2 separate regions of the Homo sapiens genome follow, and region 2 is linked to region 1. Evidence: fine-mapped expression QTL. Tissue or cell type: tibial artery. Region 1 holds a variant in brackets; the other region holds the start of a gene. All regions are shown on one strand. Distances are between the middles of the regions.

Evidence for each region. PIP is the estimated chance that this variant, and not a neighbour inherited with it, causes the effect.
Region 2: GOLIM4 starts here. The variant in region 1 is fine-mapped to the expression of GOLIM4 in tibial artery (GTEx, PIP 0.91).

Annotation. Positions count from the first base shown.
Region 1 is chr3:167,970,479-167,981,350 of GRCh38, forward strand. No RefSeq gene overlaps it. Among named protein-coding and RNA genes, the nearest start is that of GOLIM4, 120 kb to the right of the region's middle. The variant A/G (reference allele first, on the strand shown) is at 5,807.
Region 2 is chr3:168,090,351-168,101,222 of GRCh38, forward strand. GOLIM4 (golgi integral membrane protein 4) reads right to left here and starts at 5,574. Exons shown (of 16, transcript NM_014498.5): 1 at 4,749-5,574. The coding sequence starts at 4,935. RefSeq lists silencers at 5,350-5,399, 5,690-5,929 and enhancers at 5,601-6,102, 6,300-6,349.

The DNA.
Region 1 (10,872 bases):
TCATTTGCAATAACATGGATGAAACTGGAGGATATTATATTAAATAAAATAACCCAGACCCAGAAACACATGCTTTTTGTGTTCTCACTTACTGTGGGAACTAAAATTTAAAACATTGAACTCATGGAGATAAAGTAGAACGATGGTTACCAGAGGCTAGGAAGGATGCGCGGGCAGGAAACGGGGATCGTTAAGGGGTACAAAAATATAGTTAAATAGAATAAAGAAGAACGAGTATTTGAGTGCACAACAGGTTGAGCAAACAATAATTTATTGTACATTTTAAAATAATTTAAAAAATAGAATGGAAATGTTTGTAATACAAATGATAAATGCTTGAGGTGATGGATACCCCATTTACTCTGATGTAATTATTACACATGGTATGTCTGTATTAAATTATTTCATGTACCCCATAAATATGTACACTATGTACCCATAAAAATTAAAAAGAAAACATGTATATGAATATATGTGGATAGAAAGACATTTAGCAGAAGTCTTCAGAGAAGTTTCTGTAATGAATACATGTTGTTGCATTGTTTAATGAAGAAAAAAGCACATGATAGAAAAAAGGCTTTGTGACATAATAGAAGCAACTCTAGATTTGGTGTCAGGTGACTGGGTTCTAAAGCAGCTCCTCAGTAATTTGATATGGTGACTAAACTACTCTGGTCCTTCTTTCCTTATCTATAATATGGAATTAAACTAACTAATCTCTGAGGTCTCTCCCAGTACCAAAGTTTCTTGGGACCATATTTCTTTGGACTTCTTGGTAAAGTTTTTAAGGGTTTGTAAGCCTCATGATCTCAACTCAGGAATCTAAGGAAACACACCATGAACGATTTCTCTGCACATTAGCTGGTGGGACATTCCCCATCGATGGCTCTAATGCTAACTCTAACTTGGCTTGATCCTGTTTTCATGATACTGAAATGGAGGGACACAGATAAGATGTGGACTTTGCTTTGTCTGGTTGCATTGTCCTAATGTCCTAGAGAGAGGAGATAGTATATAGTAAAAAGAACATGGATGGCAGGATTTGAATTCTTACCCTAACAATTACTGATTCCAAGGAATGTTTTACACATCAGAAAAAAACAAAAATCTACTGGACAAGAGTTTTTGTGAGCTCCAAATTCATGAAGGCAGGTAAACTGCATAGAACACAATAAGCACTAGAAAAAAAAGTACAGTAATTTTCTTTTCTTCTTCTTCCTTTCACAAATGACATATTCTAGAATCAGGTTGATTCTGTGAAAAACGGGAAAAGAGAGATAAGTTTTCTTCATAATTGTCCTAGGAGCTGAAGGTAATCTTGTTCTACTCAACAGTTACGTTATAGACAGCTGATAAATTGTAACTTACAATGAATATGTTGTCATAGCGGTAAAAAAAATAAATGCAAGTTAAGCAGTAAGAGAGAGGAAACAAGGATTTAATTTTGAGATCAATTTGGAACACAATTAAGGTGATGTAGGAATCTAATATTTCATTTGTGTCTAATAAAATACCTAGGCTTGCTAGTGATTATATGCAGAGTCATTTCCTGTCCCCTCTAATAGATAATAGCTCCGACACTGTGTCCTTTAACAAAGTGTCAAAGAAACAGTTCAATGTACTCCAAGAGGAAAACAAATCACACCCTGCCAGACCTACATTATTTTGAGATTCTGCCCACTGAAGTAGGAACATATCCTAACCTTTTTTTTTTTTTAACTCAAGAAATCTGATGGTATCTTGGGAAAAAAGGTTATAGCTTTATCCTGAAAACTAATTCCATTATTTAGAAAGGACATCATGCAAACGAATGTTGATGCATAACGGGGAACAAATGATAAGGCCTCTTAAGACCTCAAAAAACTTAGGTTTTTATAGTGAGGAATTCAAATGGTTAGTCAAAGAGATTATCTCCTAAATGTCCGTCTGTTCCCTGATCCCATTCTGATTTCTGATTACCTTCAAATGCTGTAAAGCTACAGTTTTCCAACTATGTGCCAAAGCACCTCAAGGTGATGCAGAAAATCCATAGAGTACTGTGAGATGCTTTATATTTTTAAGGGAAACACAGTGGTCTTTAGCACCTGTCAGATGTTCCATGAATTAATTACAAGCTGAAGGTAATTCGCAGATTGTATACCATTCCCCTGCATGCCATCATATCTTTTAGAAGCTGGGTTTTTCACAGATTATGTAATAAAAAGCAAGGACTGCACAAAAAGTAATGTGGAACAGGAAGTGAGGGTAGTGGTGTCCAAACTGACTCCGAGGTTTGAGAAGCTGTGCAGTGCCTAATGAGTGCACTCTTCTCATTAGGAAGTAATTGTGATTATTCAAAAATGACATAAAATATTTTCTCTCTAAATTTATGTGGATTATTTTAAGCCGCTACTATTAATAATTTGCTAGGACATAAATACTTATTAAGTTGTTTGGACCTAACTATTTACTGTACTGAAGTGTCAGATATTTCTTTTGGCCTGGGATGCTGTGGAATAATATACACCAAGGGCCACCTGAACAGAGAAAGTTTGGTAACTCTGCCTTGCAGCTGTCTTCCACCTTGTCAAGATAGCACAGGTCAATGTTTTGTCTTCAACGGCATAGGTACAACAATAAACTGCCTGAGAAGGCTGGGAAGTTTGTACTCCCTTTCATTAAAGCAGAGAAAGCGAAAATAAATTTTCAGTCATTAAGGTCTTTGCAACCTACTGAGAAATGTCTGCATGCCTCATGTTAAACATTTGTCACCTGAGGACAGCCATCTGTTCTTTACAATTTTCATTTGGCCATAACCTCCTCTCCTCTTGCCAAAAGTATTAGAAGGTTGATGGCTTGCTATACAAAATCAGGATGCTTTGGAATTGCCTATTGGATGTGCTTATTTGTAGCAACATTTATTTTATCTGACCTACTTTCTGCATTTCTCAAAAGATTCACATCTCATAAACATACTATTTAATTTCTAATAGTGTTCCAAATTGCAAGCACCCTAAAACAATTATTTCATTCTTCTGCTTAAATTAGAAAGCTGGAAAGTAAGTATTCAGACATTATCACTTACTCACATAAGACATGGCACAGAAACCCCAATCTACAATTGCTTACAAAAGATTCCAAAGAATATGTTTGAAGACTTCTCTCTCTTTCCTCTACACTCTCTCTCTTTGGTGGAACTCATTCCACCTCATTGCTAGCATGGGATAATATCTATCAGGTGGCTCCCAAATTTCTGTCTTCTCCTTCTGAATTGTAGCAACACATTTCAAATTGCCCGGATATTTTACAGGCCCCACAAACATCATGTGCCCAAAAATGTACTTACTAGCTTTCCTTTTATACTGCTTTTTCTCCTGCCTTTGTTTTTATGGCCATTTCATAGTCCAAATCTGTTACCTTTTACTACTCCTTCTTCCTTGTCCACAGCAACCAATTGGTTGTCAAGTCTTAGCAATTTATCTCTTCCACTCATCCTCTGCTCCCACTGCAGCTTCCCTGGTTCAGGCCATTAATCTCTTCTTACTCTAGTGCATTCTTTGCAAAACAGCTAGAATGATCTTTACAAGATTCAAATAGGCTCATGTAAGCTCCAGACTTTGGTTTTGTATAATTTGACCCCTGCTTGTTTTACAAGTTTCATCTCAAGCTTCTTATCATCTCCACTAAGAGCTGTGGCCTTTTTTTTGGCTTCTCAACTATTTGTAGCTCCTCCCCAACTCAGAGCCAATATAATGCTATTCCCTCTACCTAAAAAGTTCCTACTTTGGCCTCCCTCCCCTTCTTAAAATTTGGGATCACTTTAGGCTCAAATTGATCTTCACCTAAATTCTATTCTTTTCTGGAGGAATTTTGATATGAGGAACCATATCTGCTGCCAGCCACTACTGCTCCCATTCCAACTCCAGGACCAAAAAAAAAAAAAAAGCTGTCAATTTAAGTTGCGCACAAGCTGGCTCCAAATTTGGAGGACACAACAGCCTAAATAAATATAAAACTAAGGTGGTGCAATGACCTGTGTTAGCCACAATAGTGAAAAACTCAAGTGTGTATTGATCATAAGAAAAAAATCTTAAAAAGTAGTTGAAGAAGCCATGAGCAAAATCCTTTATTAGTTTTAAGTGGGAAAATCTTTTTTACCATGATTTACAACTTAGAAACCAAAAAAGAAAATATTAATATATTCTCAGAAAATATTTGCTTTGTATGTACCATAATGTATATTCAAGTGTCTACCTATTTATTCAATCATTCAATACGTATTTATTGAATCTCTGCTATGTTCTAGGCTTTGTGTCAGCCGCAGAATTGGCCCATCTTGAGGCAAGGGGGCTGGTCTTCCTCATTCTAATATCAGCCAGTGATACACTGTGGGTTTTTCCCAGGTTGAAAGGTGCAAGTGTTAGGGCCGGGCACGGTGGCTCATGCCTGTAATCCCAGCACTTTGAGAGGCCGAGGCAGGTGGATCACGAGGTCAGGAGATCGAGACCATCCTGGCTAACACAGTGAAACCCCGTCTCTACTAAAAAAATACAAAAAAAAAATTAGCCAAGCGTGGTGGCGGGTGCCTGTAGTCCCAGCTACTTGGGAGGCTGAGGCAGGAGAATGGCATGAACCCGGGAGGCAGAGCTTGTAGTGAGCAGAGATCGTGCCACTGCACTCCAGCCTGGGAGACAGTGAGACTCTATCTCAAAAAAAAAAAAAAAAAAAAAAGGTGCAAGAAGGTTCAAGTGTAACTTCCCAAACAAGAAGCTCTTGTTTCCCCAAAGTCAGTACTTAAAGAAGACTAAGACTATGAGCTCTTAGCAGTCAGTACACACCAGCTGTGGGGTAGGCACACCAGCCTCGTAAAGGGTATATAGGATACCAACAACTTTTACTTCAAAGTAAAAATAAAATAATTTTAATCTTGGAAGCCCAAAATGGTACAACTCTCTCTAGGCATGGGTCTGATTAACACAAGCATTGTTGTAGGAGTGGACAAGGATGTATTATGTTGCAGATAACTAGTTTTAACAGTGACATAGTGTGACAACACCAGAAGTAACGGTATCCTCAAATTGGGGCCAACTATTTAATGGATTGATCTGTTCCTACCATTGCTTTTCCTTGAGGCATTTGAAAGAAAGATTCGCTTTCTTGAATTGAGTGAGCCAGGTCTTGATAGATTTAGGGAACAGAAAGGGATAACAAACCTTTTAGAAATCTATTATTTGAAGAGTACAAATGATTGCATTTTTAAAAATTAGATATGTGACCATACGTGAACCCATAAGCTAGCGAAGAGCACTTACAAAGTATGGGTTGGAGAGGAGAAGGTTATGGGTAGGTGCAGGAGATGCACCCTAAATCTCTGTTTCTCCCCTCTAAGTGGGGCTGAGAGTTAATAACTTTGGAAATATATAATTATGCAGTGTATGAAGCAAACATTTATAATTAAATGCATAACTGTTTTATCAAACAGTCAATTTAAAGTGCTCTTTTGTGTTAGAGAGAAATAATGTTTTCTATTATTCCTCAATAAATACAAGATGGATACAGGTTGCCATTGTTTCGTTAAGTGAAAAGCCTTCTTTAACTAAAAATCTCTTCTACAACTTCTTTATTCTCAGTAGTAGTGTTTTGTGCAAAATGGCTTTACTCAAAACTCTTAGGAAAAAAAATATTAAAATTCGACACAAGAGAAGTCTTTTTCGTATTCACTTCTTCAAACTCCTTTCCTATCTCATTATTGCCAAACACGAAAAAAAATCTGAAATGATGTGGAGAATTTAAGCAGGCAGCAATTTATCAGAAAGTGCAGGAGCAT[A/G]CATTTAAAATGCTCATCTTCAAGAAAAAGAAGGAACAAATTTTTTAAAAATGACTTTATGTCAAACAAAATAATCAATATCTGGTTTTTAAAGAAGCAATTCCGAGCGAAAATAAAATCATTCACCCTTGTAGCTTTAAACAACAAATTTTTATGCATAAGGAGAAAGGGGCATTTTCTAGAGAACTTAAAAAAAAATAAGTGGAAATTACTCATGGTCTATTATTTTAAAAGACTTGTTTCATGAAAATGAAATAATGCCCCATTCCTAATGCCCCAAAACCTTAAATAATTTCTCACAGAGTTTACTAAATAGGCAAAACAGAAGCACGTTTTAGCCAACAAAACTTTTAAAAGGGAGTGTGTCTGCGTTTCATAAAGTATTATTTCACTTGAAGATCTCATACAGGCAACATGCCAATGGAGTTGTTTAAATAAGCTTTCAAAAACTACAGGCAATAAGAAAAGATACAAACTGTTTTCTTTAAAGGACATAAGGTGAAATATAAAGAGGGAAAAGTCAACCTTTTATAATCACCACTACTAGCCTTTACTTTGTGTCCCCTAAACCTCTGATTTAGCCTTATTTGGTGTTTTGAAAGACTACAGTCTCTTAAGAGACAAAGATACTCATAGCATTCGCTAAAGCAAGCTGCTAAATTTCTTGCATCTAAAAGCATTTCCATATATGCTCAGATGAAAACCCTGCCTGTTGGTTCTCTTAATCATGTTTTTCAGCACACTGACTCCGGAAATGTACAGTCTAGCCCTCGGGACGAGAGCAAAGCTCACATTTACTCACCAATTATTCAAGATTCCTTTTACTGCAGCATGTGTTCACTTTCTCCCTTTTGTGCATAAAAATGTGTTTGTAAAAATTACTTTGGAGCAACTGAACCACTGAATGAAGTTCAGAAGCAGGAAGCTGAAAACACAGATCTGAGGCTCAGATACATATAAATGAGTAATTCTACTATCTAAAGTTCACCATTAAAATTAGGGTGAGGCAGATAATCTTGTTTGTACCAGATAAGACAGCAGAACAGTAAACGACGGATAGAAGGAATGTTTGTACACTTATGAATGAAAAGAGTGATGAAACGGAATAAGAAGCAAAGTTACATGGTAAACCAAGAAACGATTTATAGAACAAGACTGTGAACACGGTATTCTAGAAAAGTGATCTATCAGGTGACAGTCGCTGCTGTGTGTGTTATCAAGAGATTTCCAAGTTGTAAATCCACCTACACGGAAAAAACACGGCAAGAAATACATCTGTGTTTAGTGGGAAGGAGAGCATTGCACAGTCAATCATCTTGTGTTTAACATGCTGGTTCGGAATCAAAATTTCCTTTAAAAATTGTTTATTCTTTCACTAATTTGCAGCTGAAGCACAATAATCATGCCACTGGTACTCAGTAGGAAGATTGCACACCTGGGGGACCTGTTCAAGATAACAACTCAGAAGACAGGGTGGCGAGAACATGTATCTAGGGACCTCAGCCAAGGATGCTAAATATAAAGGACAAGGTTCGTTTAGGAGAAAGAATCCCTTAAAAAAAATGTTATTTTAAAAGAGATGTTGCTTCCACACTATGAGCAAGTCGTTTTCTCTGTCTAGCAGGAAGTTGAAAATACAGATCGGAGGCTCAGCACATATATATGTGGCACTCTTCAATGTAAAGGACACAGTTGAAACATGGAGTGAAATAGATACCCTCATTTGCTTCATGCAACATTCATTCTGACACGTATTATGTTAGTCCTCTTGTACCGTAGATGAAAAACCTAACAAAGCCATTTTCCAGGCACGTTTCCAAGTAGAGCTCTACATGTGGCCTGGTCCCATCAAGTCTTGTGTGAGTTGAATGTGAAAGTGAGCAACAAAGGCAGCTGGCAGTCACAAGGACAAGTATTTCCAGATGGGCAGGTGTGGTGGCAGAGGCCCCTGGTTCTTCTGGAATAGCTGTGGCAGTTTCTAGCCTCCCCTGCCTAGCATCAGGAATCTACTGATAAGCCACGGTGACTGTGGTTTCCACTGGACTTCTCTGCTGGCTGCATTGCTGCTGGTTTTATATCTCGGCCTAGTTCCCTGAAGTTCCTGTGAGTTTCCCCATGTTTTATGAGTCTCTTTATGTTTACATTATGCTTACATAAGATTTTATGGTTTGCAACTAGGAGTAAATTACCTAAGGCAACAGAAAAATAAGAGATCCAAGGTAAAGGCATTGGACAAATTGGGGGGAAAAAAAACATATCCAAGAGGAGATGGTGAAACAAGAGAGCACAGGGTCCTTGTTCTACCCCCAGGTATGATACAAGTTTATATACTATTCTGACATTAGAAAAGAGATGAATGTCAGCCCTAGTTGGTCTTTGGCCAGGGTGTCTCATCCCGCTACAACCTCTCTCTCTCTCTCCCTTGCTTGGCTCAGGAAAAGACATTCTACACAGCTATCTATAAGGTCACATCTGGTATTGGGGGTATAATTTGCTACTGATAATATCAGATTTGGCTACCCCTGCTGATTGCAAGGTCTCTGCCCTCTGTGACCTCCTGGTCCTAAACCCAGTTTTCTTCTCTTTCACTGCCCCTCTCAGCATTTCCAAGCCTTTTGTAGGCCCAGAAATTCTCAGGTGCTTCTTCCACCCTTCAAAGCCACCCTCAAATCCATATCCCAGAAACCTCTCACTGCCCCTGCTACCATGCCATGTGGAATGCAGAGCCATGTCAAACTGGGGACTCTCTGGAGACTTGTCATCTCGGCAGAAAATGGTCAGGAGTGAGCGCCAGACCTGATATTCTGTTTGAGTGCTAGTGATAATTCCATTGTCCTCACCCCTCCCCTTTCCAGAATTTTAACAGATGCTAAAAAGTCTAGTTTGAAGAATTCTGATATATTTCCAGTTGGGAGTGTAAATTATTGCCACCTCTATGAAGGGTAATTTGGCAATATTTAACAAATTTTAAATACACATGGCCTTAAACAGCAAGCCCAACTTTAGGAACTTATACTACAAATAAAATCATGTTCTCACAAAATGGCCTTTTTATGAGGTTATTCATTGTGAGACTGTTTGTAATAGTGAAAGACTGGATAAATCAAATGTCCATCAATACGAGATTAGTTAAATAAAAATTGTAGTGAATTCATACAACAGAATATTCTCCTGATTCTCCAATAACATTGGTTGTCTGTGCAGAAAAGTAGGTGAATAAAGTTCAGAAGAGGAAAGGAGAATTTTCACCAGATATTCTTTTATACTTCTTGAATTTTGAACCATGTGAATACTATAAATACTTGTACATGCATTTTTAATCTTAAAAAATACATTTAATTTTTAAAAATCTACCTTTTTCCTTAAATCTTATATAAAAATATATCATTATATTTAAAAATTACTCTATACTCTAAAAAGCAATTACTTTTTTGTTCTTTGGATTTTCTATATTCTTCCTAAAGCTAAGATTGCTTCAGCTTTAATGATAGAAGGGCTTTAGGTCAAAGAGAAGCAATCTTAGTTCTCCAGAATAAGCAATAACTGTTGACTAGAATTTGAAATATATCTATATAATGTTTTCAAAAAATGCCATCTCTCTAAACACAGTCAATAGTTGGAATTTTCATCATTCCTCACTTAGATTTTTGCGTGTTGACTTTTTTCCTTTGTTCATCTCCATGTTTACATTAAAACATTCTAAACATGTCATTCTATAGTTTTGTGTAGATTCCGTAAAATTATATCCCTTGCATGTAAAATAACAACCATGGGCCGGGTGTGCTGGCTCACGCCTGTAATACCAGCACTTTGGGAGACCAAGGTGGGCAGATCACGAGGTCAGGAGTTTGAGATCAGCCTGGCCAACATGGTGAAACCCCGTCTCTACTAAAAATGCAAAAGTTAGACAGGCGTGATGGCGGGTGCCTGTAATCCCAGCTACTCAGGAGGCTGGGGCAGGAGAATCGCTTGAACCCAGGAGGCAGAGGTTGCAGTGAGCCGAGACTGTGTTATTGCACTCCAGCCTGGGCGACAGAGTGAGACTCCATCTCAAAATAAATAAATAAACAAAATAACAACCACGAACCAATCTTTTGGCGGTTCTCATATAATGAAAAACAGCTAGCTGACTTAAAGAGTGCACAGTATATATCAAACATTTCCTAGGTTCTTTCTTTGTTTGTCACAATAACCCTATTAAGCTGGTATTTTTTAATTGCATTTTGTAGATGAAGAAACTGAGGCACAGAAAAGTTTGCCAAGGACACATAGATAAGATGTGATGGAAGGAGGATTCGAACCCGTAGATCCTGTTCCATTCATGATGATGGTTCTACTAACAAGTGTCTAGGGAGCAGTAACTGTGTGTCAGTCGCTGCCCTAAACACTTCCATGGATTAACAGTTTTTTAAGGGCTTATTCAATTTAATCCTTACATCAAAGCTATGAATAGGCACTTACTGTCTTCCAATTAGATATGAGGGTATCAAGACAGAATGTTTAAGAAATTTATCATGTTCTTAACCGCTATATTATAGTATTTTGTCATCCAAACAAACCCATGAGGCAAATAAATTTATCTCTGGCTGCAACTTAGTTCACATAGTAATGAGAGACGGAAACGGGGTTTAAATCTAGCCCGTCTGCCTTCCACAATCTGGGACCTGCTTCTCCCTAAAGAAAGATTCCTGGACTACATGGCAGGCAGCTCTGGCACTAACTAGCTGCTTGTTTTGTTCATGTTTTCTAAGCTCTCAGGATTCTAATGGGCACATTTTAATGGGAGAGGGGAGAACCAGATGGTCACTAAAGGTCATTACAATTATGGAAGTCTCTTCTGCTCAACTTTTCTATTCTATCCCTTTAGAAATTCTATACAAAGAAATGCCTATTTACCTTTCATGTCCTGATTCTACAGGATGCAGGAAAAATGTCTTATGGCTAAATTTTGAGCATTTAAGCACCAAGTTTGGAGTTCCAAAAAGAATTCACATTGGTCTGATAGACGCAAGTTTGAACCCAGGCCTAGTTTTAAGTTGTGGCTCTCCTGTGTATGAGCTGCTCCC
Region 2 (10,872 bases), 120 kb after region 1:
GAGCAGAGGACATGAAAAGACATTTTTAACAGGAAGCTAGACAAGAAGACAACACACATAGGAAAAAATGCTCAACATCACTAAGCATGAGAGAAATGCAAGTTAAAATCACAGTGAGATACCATCTTACACTAGTCAGAACGGCTTTTATTAAAAAGTCAAAAAACAACAAATGTTGGCAAACATGCAAAGAAACGGGAATGCTTATACACTGTTGGTAGGAATGTAAACTAGCACAACCTTTCTGGAAAACAGTATCAGGATTTCTCAAAGAACTAAAAATAGAGCTACCATTCACTCCAGCAATCCCAATACTAGGTATATACCCAAAGGGAAATAAATAATTATACAAAAAAGATACCTGCACTTGTATGTTTATTGCAGCACTATTCACAACAGCAAAGATATGGAATCAACCTAAGCGTCCATCAACAGAGAACTGGTAAAGAAAATGTGGTATATATACACCATGGAATACTACTCAGCCGTAACAAGGAATGAAATCATGTCTTTTGCAGCAACATGGATGGACCTGGAGGCCATTATCCTAAGGGAAATAACTCAGAAAAAGAAAAGTCGAAGATAGCATGTTCTCATTTACAAGTGGGAGCTATACAACGGGCACACATGGACATAGAGAGTGGAAGTGGAGACTACAAAAGGTGGGAGGCTAGCAGGGGGTGAGAGTTGGAAATTTTCCTGTGGGGTAAACATGTCCATTCTTTGGGTGCACTGAAAGCCCAGACTTCACCACAACTCAATATATGCATGTGAGAAATCCACACTTGTAACTCTGCACTTCTACACGTCACATTTGTGACCTTTTTTTAAAATTTTAAATAGTTGTAACATATTCATCTGGAATAGGAACATATAAACCTTACATAAACTTTTTCTGGATGGTTTCTCCTTATCCCTGGAAGTCCAAAAGCATTGCAATACTGTGTTTTAGGAATGTCAGGCTCTTTGCCTCTACACTAAATGCCTTTTATAAAAATTTAAATAGTTATATCTCTCTCCCAGATCTCACAGCACATAATTATTACCTTAGCAGTCACACCCTCTCCTAATCTGATATGATCCAGAACAGAGTTAATCAGTAACCGCAGTCCAAGTTTAAATTGTCAAGGAAGGTCCTTTCTTCTGATTAAAGTACACTGGATGTTTGCATATTCCTTGATGTTCATTTAAGGTACAATAAAAGGAGGTGGTTAGCTACATAAACAAATTCTGCCAATTTCAAAATTTGAAATTACCCATGACAAACCTGGCAAGAGTAAAAGGGATAAAGCAGCTTACCTCAAAGAGGGATTCTGATAACAGCTAACTTTTAACGAGCAGTACCTACTATATGCCAAGTATGTGCTAAGAGCTCTACAGTCTATCATCTTCATTAATCCTCACAATACCTCTATAAAATAGGTTATTCTAATCTCCACTTTATAAATAAGAAAAACGTCAAGGTTCACACAAAAGGTTGTAGAACTAGAACTGAATTACAGTCTAGAAACCAGTCTGCTTTTAATCACATACTCAGATAAAAAATTCAAGTGTCTCTGGGGCCAAACAAGTAAAGTAAATGCACGGAAAGGCTCAGTTTTAAGATTTTTTATAGAGGTGTGGCTCTCAACCTTGGCTGCACACAGGAATCACCAGGGGAGCTTTAAAGACTTTTGAAGCCTGGGTTCCACCCCCCATAGACTGTTATTTAATTGGTCTGGGAGCCACCAGGTGATACTAATGGGCAGTCTAGACTGAGAAACACTGCCTATAGATACAGACAATGGAGCATGGCTCACTTGAAAGCAGTTTAAAAACTTTAAAGGTTATATAAACACTGTGCTGGCCAAAGATTGTTATTACCTTTGCCACCAGTATGTGACCTCTGTCCCACTCCTCAGTATAATTAAGGTGCCAGTATGGGAGATAAATAGATGACTGATTGCTAAGAGGGATAGATAAACAGGCAGACATAGATATTTTTATAGTGGAAGGGGTTTGCCTAGTCTCTGACCTTTCTGCATGCCATCCCCACCATCTTCTAGTTATGGGGCTCTTCTACAATAAAACTTGTTAACTTGGGGTTACAAGTAACCCACTTTCAAAGGAATCTATGGAGTATAATCTATTCTTAAACTGAAGGTGACCTAAATACGCTCACTTAACGAACGCACATCATCAGATTATAGGTCTAAACTACTGAAATTTTTTCAAGAGTCATTTTTAAAAAGACCACTCTTTTTAAAGTCATTAATTCTGATCTTAATCCAAGCCAGGTCAAGCAATCCCACCTAACTAAACAAGTATTAAGACTGGAGAGCCTGATGTCCTAAAAGCCCATCTATGCAGGTGGTACACAGTGCTGTTGAGTAAAATGTCATTTGTCTTGGAAAAGGGAAGCAAAAGTTGCATACCACCAGAAAATGTACATTAAATGGCTTACACATGGGAAATCCAAAATAAATGCTACTGAAGTCAAAAGTGAATCCACAAAAAACAAAAACAAACAAAAAAATACTTTAGCCTGCTTGTGAAATAATTATTCATGCACAATTATACTGCAAGTTTTGTAGCACCATAATTAGAGAGGAAATGACAAAAGAATAAATTAAGAAAGGGACTTTGAAGCCACTTATTCAAATTAGGTAGAACATTTCCATCTGCTGCAAAACAAAAGTTGTATATTTTAATGATCCTGTATTACCATTTACCACCTCTCTTCCCCACTACCACCACCACCACTAAAAAAAGAAAAGGCAAATTAGAAAAGAAATTTCTAAAATTTCAAAATGAAATACTGCAAATAAAGGCCATTATTCAGAAATTAGGGCCTCAGTCAACAATATCCATCGTCCATCATAGGCCGTTGAGGCAAAGGAGCTACTTGAACAAAATATTTTCTTGTTTTATTTGGCTTTCAAAAAGCAAAGACACAGAAGCAAAGTCTCAGAAAGACAAAAGTGCCTGGGATGAACTTACTCGCCACAGTTCAGAATAATTTTTGTTTGTTGTTTGAATAAACATGCATTGATTCCCCTAATGAGTGTCAGGCACAGTGTGGTGCTGAGGAGGTAATGGTGAAAATGACAGCCTTTGCCCTCATGGGACTCCTAAGAGACCAAGGCACACACAACCTCATATAATCCACCATACATGCCCCTTCCAGCCATGTTTATGAAAATCTAGTCCTGTTATACTATTAGACGGTAAATTTTTCCCTTGGTCTGACTCCATGGAACTTCACAGGGAAGCAACTGATACCTTGTAAATAAATAAGTAAACAAATATCCATATTCTCATACCAACAATAACTCATGGGTAAATTTCAATGAGTTTAAAGAAAATTTTGTGAACCTAAGAGCGTATCAAAACGGGTTTTACTTTTGAACCAAGCCGAGCCATATATTTTCATTGCCTGTGGCTATGCAGCGTCAGTAAGCTAAAAATACTTTTCTTTCTTCTAAGTTGGGAAGAGCAAGTTAAGTCCAAACAATCGGATGTGTATCATTTTCTCTCATCTTAAATTTTTTACTAGAAAACACTCAAAATAACTGAAGCAAAGAAGAGGCATCTGTTTCATATCTGCACACACATACACAGAAACATCCCTCTAGCTTGCATCTATCTACCTAGCAATATTAAACAAGCTATATTTGCATCATCAGCAAAGTCTGCCAACATTTCACCACTTACAGCTATTTATTATTATTTTTTGGTTGGGGAGAAAGCTGCATAAGTATTGAAAACTAACCACAAGTAAAAGCTTGCAAAAAAAATATGTATAGGATACGTCCTTAACAAGAGGACATGGTGCTGACTTTGAATTTACGTTAAAAGTAAATTCAAATTCAAATTCTGAATTTACATTTAAAGTAAATTATGTTTGTGAAAATTACATTAAATTAGATTCTAAAATAGGATAGAAACTTTAAGTTCTTCTACAGGTCTTGCTCAAGTTGGGTTTGCTGTGCATGGCAAAGTGAAAACCTGTGTTTCTCCTCTTTGGCTTCCCGAAGCTAACTGTAACATACATGCATCTCTGTGATGAAGTAAAAGCTACTTAGGAAGACAAGTAAACCTGTTTTTAAAGAAATAAACTACTGCAGGATGGTGAATGGTATGTAGTGTGGACTTTTCCCACACATCCAGCATCTCTAAAGACATCCTATTAAATTAAAAGAATAAGAAATAAGAAACTAGCAGGTCCAGATCTAGGTTCCTTCCATTCGACTGGGCCATGACTTTAATTAAGCTGCTGGGTCATGGCTTAATTTTCCCTTGAAAAACAGCACAGTTTGAGAAATCTCTGCCAAACTCTTCATTTTTTAAGCAACTGACAAAGTCAACAAGAAAGCAAATACCTAGAATCCACGGAACAATGCTCCTCAGAGCAGGGCTGGCAGAAGCGGCGGAGGGCTACCAGTTTCCCTGCCCCGATTGCAGCTGGGCCTTTGACAAGAGCTCGGGTAAAGGACTATCTGTGCACCCGCCCACCAAACGCCCAGCGGGACGATGGGCTGGTGCTACGAAGTTCTAAACCTAACCGCTGGGAGGAAGAAGCGGGAGGATGAGAATGTCATCTCCCCTGACACTCTGGTGCCGGCAGTCCTGAAACGCTCACCTCTGACGTCCCTGAAGGTCAGAGGTGGCAACCACAGTGCCAATAGCTCACCAAAGCCACTTTTCCTGCCCGGGTGGAGGCGCGGGGCAAAGTTGGCCACCGGCTGCGCGCGTCCCGTTAGCCGTACCTTGTAACTGGGCGGAGAGGGACTCCTGGTGCTGCTGGTACTTGAGCGCCACCGCCTCGGCTTTCCGCAGCTGCGTCTGCAGCTCGTAGTAGAGCATCGCGCCGTAGAGAAAGCCGAACACGACGGTCAGCAGCAGCAGCGTCTGGAAAATCCGCTTCTGCTTTCGGGAGCACATCCCGTTTCCCATAGTCCCGCCTGGACCCAAAGCCGCGGCCGCCCCCGCCGTCTCCTCCCCTTGGTCCGAGCGAGCGTCTCAGCAGCGGCCGCCGCAGTAGGTGGCCAGACGCAGCATGAGGAGGAGATGCCAGACACAAAAGCCGGCCCGGAGGGGAAGTGGCGCCCGCTCAGCCCCCGCGCGGCGCGGGGCGCGCAGCCATCGACGCCGCCCGGGCAGCTGCAGCCAAACTTCTGCGAGGCTCGTTCTCCGCGAATGCCCGGGGCCGGGAGGAGGCCCTCCGCATACTTCAGAGCCGGCTGCCCTCGCGCCTGTCCCCAGATGCCTCCTGCCTTTTTTCCTTCTTCCCACTTTTTGGCCCCGCTGCCCCCGGGCAGTTCTTGGAGTCCCGCCCTGGCCACTCCCCGCCCTATCGCGGCGGCTCCCACTGCACGACTTTGTTGCCACCTAAGGGAGGGGGTGCGCGCCCAACAAAGGGACCAGGACTCCGGGCCGCGCCCCCGTGCGGCCTGCCCAATGGGTGGAAGGGTGGGGGCCAGCTGTCTCGGCTGGTTTTGGGGACGGCACAGCGGTGTCACTGACGGGTCGGCTGGTGCCTCTGCCGCCCCGCCACCTCCTGCCCAACTTACGTGTCACCCACGGCCCGGCTATTCTGGCCAACGGGATTCCGGGAGGAAGTCCCACTCGGCCTCCTTGCTCATTGGGCCCGTCCGAGCAGACGCTCCCTCCCTTCGGGGAGGCAGTGCCGGGCTCGATTGGATGCCGGCTTTGTCCGTCCGACCCCAGGGCCGCACCTTCCCTCCCAGTGCCGGGGCCGGCTAGGGGCTCTGTGGGCAGCGCGGCCGCCTGGCGCCGGGGTGCGCCCACGTGGAGTCGGAGAGGGTGGGAAGAGGCAGGCGGAAGGGCGAAGGGCGGGGAGCTTTGGGTGGGCGGGGGACTTGTCCGGGCCTGAGTCTGGGTGAGGTTCGGTGAACACGTGTGTGTGTGTGTGTGTGTGTGTGTGTGTGTTCCAGTTCTCGTTCGGAACGCACGTGGAGAGCGGAGTAAAATGTGTGTATGAACGAAAGAATGGATGGCAGTAACTGTGTGCACTCTGCTGAGTACACTTTCTTTCCCTGTCCAATAAACTGATGCGGCAGACACATGGGATAGCTACATAGCACAATCCCGGTAGTCAAACCAGAGATGCCATGTCGACTGCCTTACCCCATCCAGTGTACTAGCCTAGATGTGTGTGTGCCCACAGATGGCCCGGCAGGAGTCGGGAGACTGGAAGCACGCTAGACTTAATGTTCAATTGTCCACGTGGGCTGGGGAAATCGGCTTGCCATTGGCAGAGAGGAAAGAAATGGTCTCACATTTCTCCTCTAGCTGCAAATAGAATAATTTAAAAACAAATCGTACAGACTGAAATGAGTATCCATTCATTTTGTCATATGTATTTGTTTTATTGGTGGCAAAACACATCAGTTACATTTCTAAATTACATTTTAAAGGGCAACAAAGGTTCCCTATGTAAAAACTAGTACAGCACAGGAAAGGTAGTAACCACAAACCTCTTCGAAGAAATGTATACTGCATTTATTTTTTCTGTGTACTTGAGGGGAATAATTAAGGTTATGCACAAATGATAATTTTTGTTTCTGCTGTTGACCTGAATTCTAAGAAAAGTAAATTTTATCTGTCTGTATAGTGTGGTGTAATTTATGATACACTGCATAATTTTTATATTCTAACTGGACTTTAGTCGTTACCATTGCTAATGGGCCTGAGTGCTCAAAATGGGGGTAAATCTCTTTAGCTAAATGCAACAGAAAGACAGTTCCTGGTGCAAAAGTTTTTTTAGGTGGACTCTGAAATTATAGGTTGCTAAAGCCCTAAAATAAACTGAATTTATAACGATGCTACCCTGTGGCATTTATACCACTGTAAAAATAAAGTGTGTCTTGCATGTGCTTTTCCTTAATAAATAATAACTTGCGTTAAATTATTCAAAATGCTTTCGTGTGCAGATACACTGTCTCACTGATCACAGCCAGGGTGTTAGACTTTCATGTTGGTAAAGAAGCCAAAGTTTATCAAAGTGACTATGACAGCTCTAGGACCTTTTAGGTCTTGCATAAAGTTAGTTACTCAGCAAGATTAGAATCCAGATCCAAACCCTGCTCTATGTCTTTTTCTTCAATAGAAACAATGTTCTCATTCTATTAAACAAGTTACAGTAAGAAATTATATCTCCATTAACATGAGAATCTGATTGTAAAAGAAAACAGTCTAAAGGAGTTTGGGAGTTTTGTTGTGTAAATACTACATAATCTTCCTTATTATTAAATCTACCACTTTAAATTCCTCTTTTTTAGTTTGACTCTCAGAAATTAACATTGGATAATTACTGGAATCTCTTTAAAATTCCTCATAACTAAACATTCCTTACTGTTGTCAGAGTACTTTGTTAAACAAACTCTTCCTCCAAAAACACTATCCAAATTTAGGCTGGGCATGGTGGCTCACTCCTGTAATCCCAGCACTTCTGGGAGGTTAATGCGAACAGATCGCTTAAGTTTGGGAGTATGAGACCAGCCTGGGCAACATAGCAAAACCCCTCCTCTACAAAAAAAAAAATATATAAAAATTTAGCTGGGCATGGTGGCGTGCACCTATAGTCCCAGCTACTCGGGAAACTGAGTTGGGAGGATCCCTTGAGCCTGGTAGGTAGAGGTTGCAGTGAGCCAAGATCACACCACTGCACTCCAGCCTGGGCGACAGAGGTGAGACTCTGTCTCAAAATAAATAAATATATAAATAAATAAAGTTTATGGCAATAATCTTGCCCCATATTTGAAGAGAAAATTATCCTAGCCACAAAAGAAAAAGAAGTTGTATAGAGGGTTGGAAAATTATTGCTCATATATTGTACAATATGTATTTTAGAATCTTTGGAAAATTCTTATGTTTCCTGAATGTATGATTCATCTTAAACCTCTGATTCCTTTGCATCTGATTCCAGACTCCAAAGATATTCTTTGCCTAAAGCTGCTGGCTGACTCTACAGAACATAATAAATGCAGGCCATAAAACACAACTCAATATTTTAGTCATAAAATTTGAAAGACAGCAAAAATTATTACCTGAACTTATCCATTATTTCAAATTCAAGAAGGGTATGTAGAAGTACATAAAATTACTAATGGTGGTATTTTTATAATATTACATTTCCAAGGTAAAGTATGCTGCTAGTTTCCTGAAAATGTCAGTATAGAGCTTTTGAGCGGCCAACATGAGGAAGCTATCCAAGGCCTATAAAATGAATTTACATAACATTGCCTTTGGGTAGCAATTATAACATAACAGCTGTTTATACTGGTCTTGGAAGGTGTGTTGTTCATTCTATTTTATTTTTGCTTCTTTGTTATTTTAAAAATAGTATATATAATTATATTTCTATATTCCATATATTTAACAATATATTTAACTTTAAATTATAAACCCTGAAGAATTTTACTGATTTAGTATTTTATTTCTGAGGCAGGAAGAAATTAACTTAAAGATACTCAAGGTCTTACATTTGAGAAGGGCAAATATAACATTTGGGAATATTAATTCTCTCTAACTTAAGTGAATTTGTCATTTTAATCAAATTTGTTCATTTTCAAAATAAGGGAAGGAAAAAATAAAAAGTTGAGAGAGACAGCTGACGTATAATTTCTAAAAGTAAGATTTTAAATTAATAATATTTAGGATCCTAGAGTAAATAATTTCTATTATCTAAATCTTTTATTTAAATTTCTTTACTACAAATGGAACTCAATATTTTGTAATTTGTAGGAGAAATCATCACCTAAGAAAAGGTGATGAATAGTAAATAAAATTTAAAATAGCTTTTCAGTATTAATAAACTAATTTTAATCTTTTCATCTGACAATTACAAAAGTTATTTATCCTATAAAACAATCTTCACTCTATGATGTCTTCACCTTTTTGCCATTTCATCAGTTTGCTGTCCCCTAATGAATACACTTGCCTTGCTGATTGCCACTTTTACCTGACCTGTTTTGAGAGGTAAAGAAAGCTGCATTCAAGGTATTATGTCTTTTTGAACATTTTGTGAAAGATGTTTTGAGACTCCTTTTTCATAGGATTTTGATAATGACCTAGTAGTAATTGTTAGAAGATTAACAAACTAAAAAGTAGGTCTGTGGTTGAATGCATAACTGAGTAACTGAACCCCACTCAATGTATCTTTATGCCTTGTTTACATCTGTCACTACGTTGCCACCTTTGTAATTTTCAACTATATCTGAAGAGGAGGGCAGAGGAGAAAGTAGATGATTTGTTCTTATTTATAAAAATGCTTTTCAATGAGAGAAACCTTACCATCAATATCACTAAGAAATACCTTCTGAGGCCGGGTGCGGTGGCTCACGCCTGTAATCCCAGCACTTTGGGAGGCTGAGGCAGGCGGATCACGAGGTCATGAGATCGAGACCATCCTGGCCAACATGGTGAAACCCTGTCTCTACTAAAAATACAAAAATTAGCTGGGCATGGTGGCGTGTGCCTGTAGTCCCAGCTGCTCGGGAGGCTGAGGCAGGAGAATCGCTTGAACCTGGGAGGCGGAGGTTGCAGTGAGCTGAGATTGCGCCATTGCACTCCAGCCTGGCAACAGAGCGAGACTCCATCTCAAAAAAAAAATAAATAAAATAAAATAAAAATAAATAAATACCTTTTGAATACAGACTACTAATAATGGACGTGATTTAGAAGTCCCTATTTGCCACAGGATGTGTAGCTAGTCTAAAGGAAGAGGAACTATCATTTCAAACCTCTAACAACATTCTAAAGCAGGATATCTAGCCAACCCTAAACTTTTCCAAATTCTAAGGCAGTATACGAAATCATTATGAATATGTTGCTTAATGTTTGTTACAGCTAGCATATAATGAGCTAACTACCACATTTTTTTTTCAGTTTAATTTCATAGGAAGTTAGAAAGAATGGAAAGGGAGCATATGTGAGCCTCAGAAGTGAACTTCCTAAATCTTCCAATGGCTCATCCAGCTTCTCACCAACTCACTGCCTTTAATAGTCAAAGACTTTAGATAAGCAGAGATACCACAGAAAAGATCAGTGGCCAGTAAAACATGACATTTTTTAATGTCCCCTCCCCCAAAATATTATAATTTATTGGATTGATTTTTATGAAAGCTATACTTAGTTTACTCATGACCATTTTATAAAATTGGCATTACAATTTTAATATGTTATAACATATAGTAATTTTTTAATTGTGATGAGGGTGGCTGGTCATATTTATAAAGTATCCAATGCCAAGTTCTGGGTCAGAAATTCAACGTTTAATTTTAGAATTATTCCTAAGGGAAATAATAATCTGCTTCATAAATGCTATTTAAACTATAGTTTTCAGGAATATTTTGAGTCAGAACAAAATGACTACCAATAATTTTAGTTAGAAATAAAGTGGAACAAATTTTCAAACAAAATATAAGAAGAATTGAGTTATCACAGCATTAAATTCTGCCCAAATTAAAATTGTGAAATGGAAACATTTGTCTTGGATCACTCTGCTCTCTAGTTCAACTCTTCAGCTCCTGGCATCCAAAATTTTAGTTATCCCCCTTGGTTTTCCAGAATCCTAGACTATGACTATGCCTTTCTCTCCCAACCTCACCCACTCATATACACAAACTTGGACTTGCCTTCTTCAAGACAAAGTAGCCTAATCTAAAATGACTCTTCCTTTCCTTTAGCTGCTTAATCAGAGGAAAGAAAACTGGGTATGTTAACTAACAGGAAGATATTAAAACTGAATTACTAACTTAGTCTTCTACCCAACAATTTTGAGAGAAACTATTAAATGAAAAGACTGAACTCCAATGGCATAATTCTAGACTGCCTGCAGAGTAGATAAGTGACAACTGTGGCTTGACT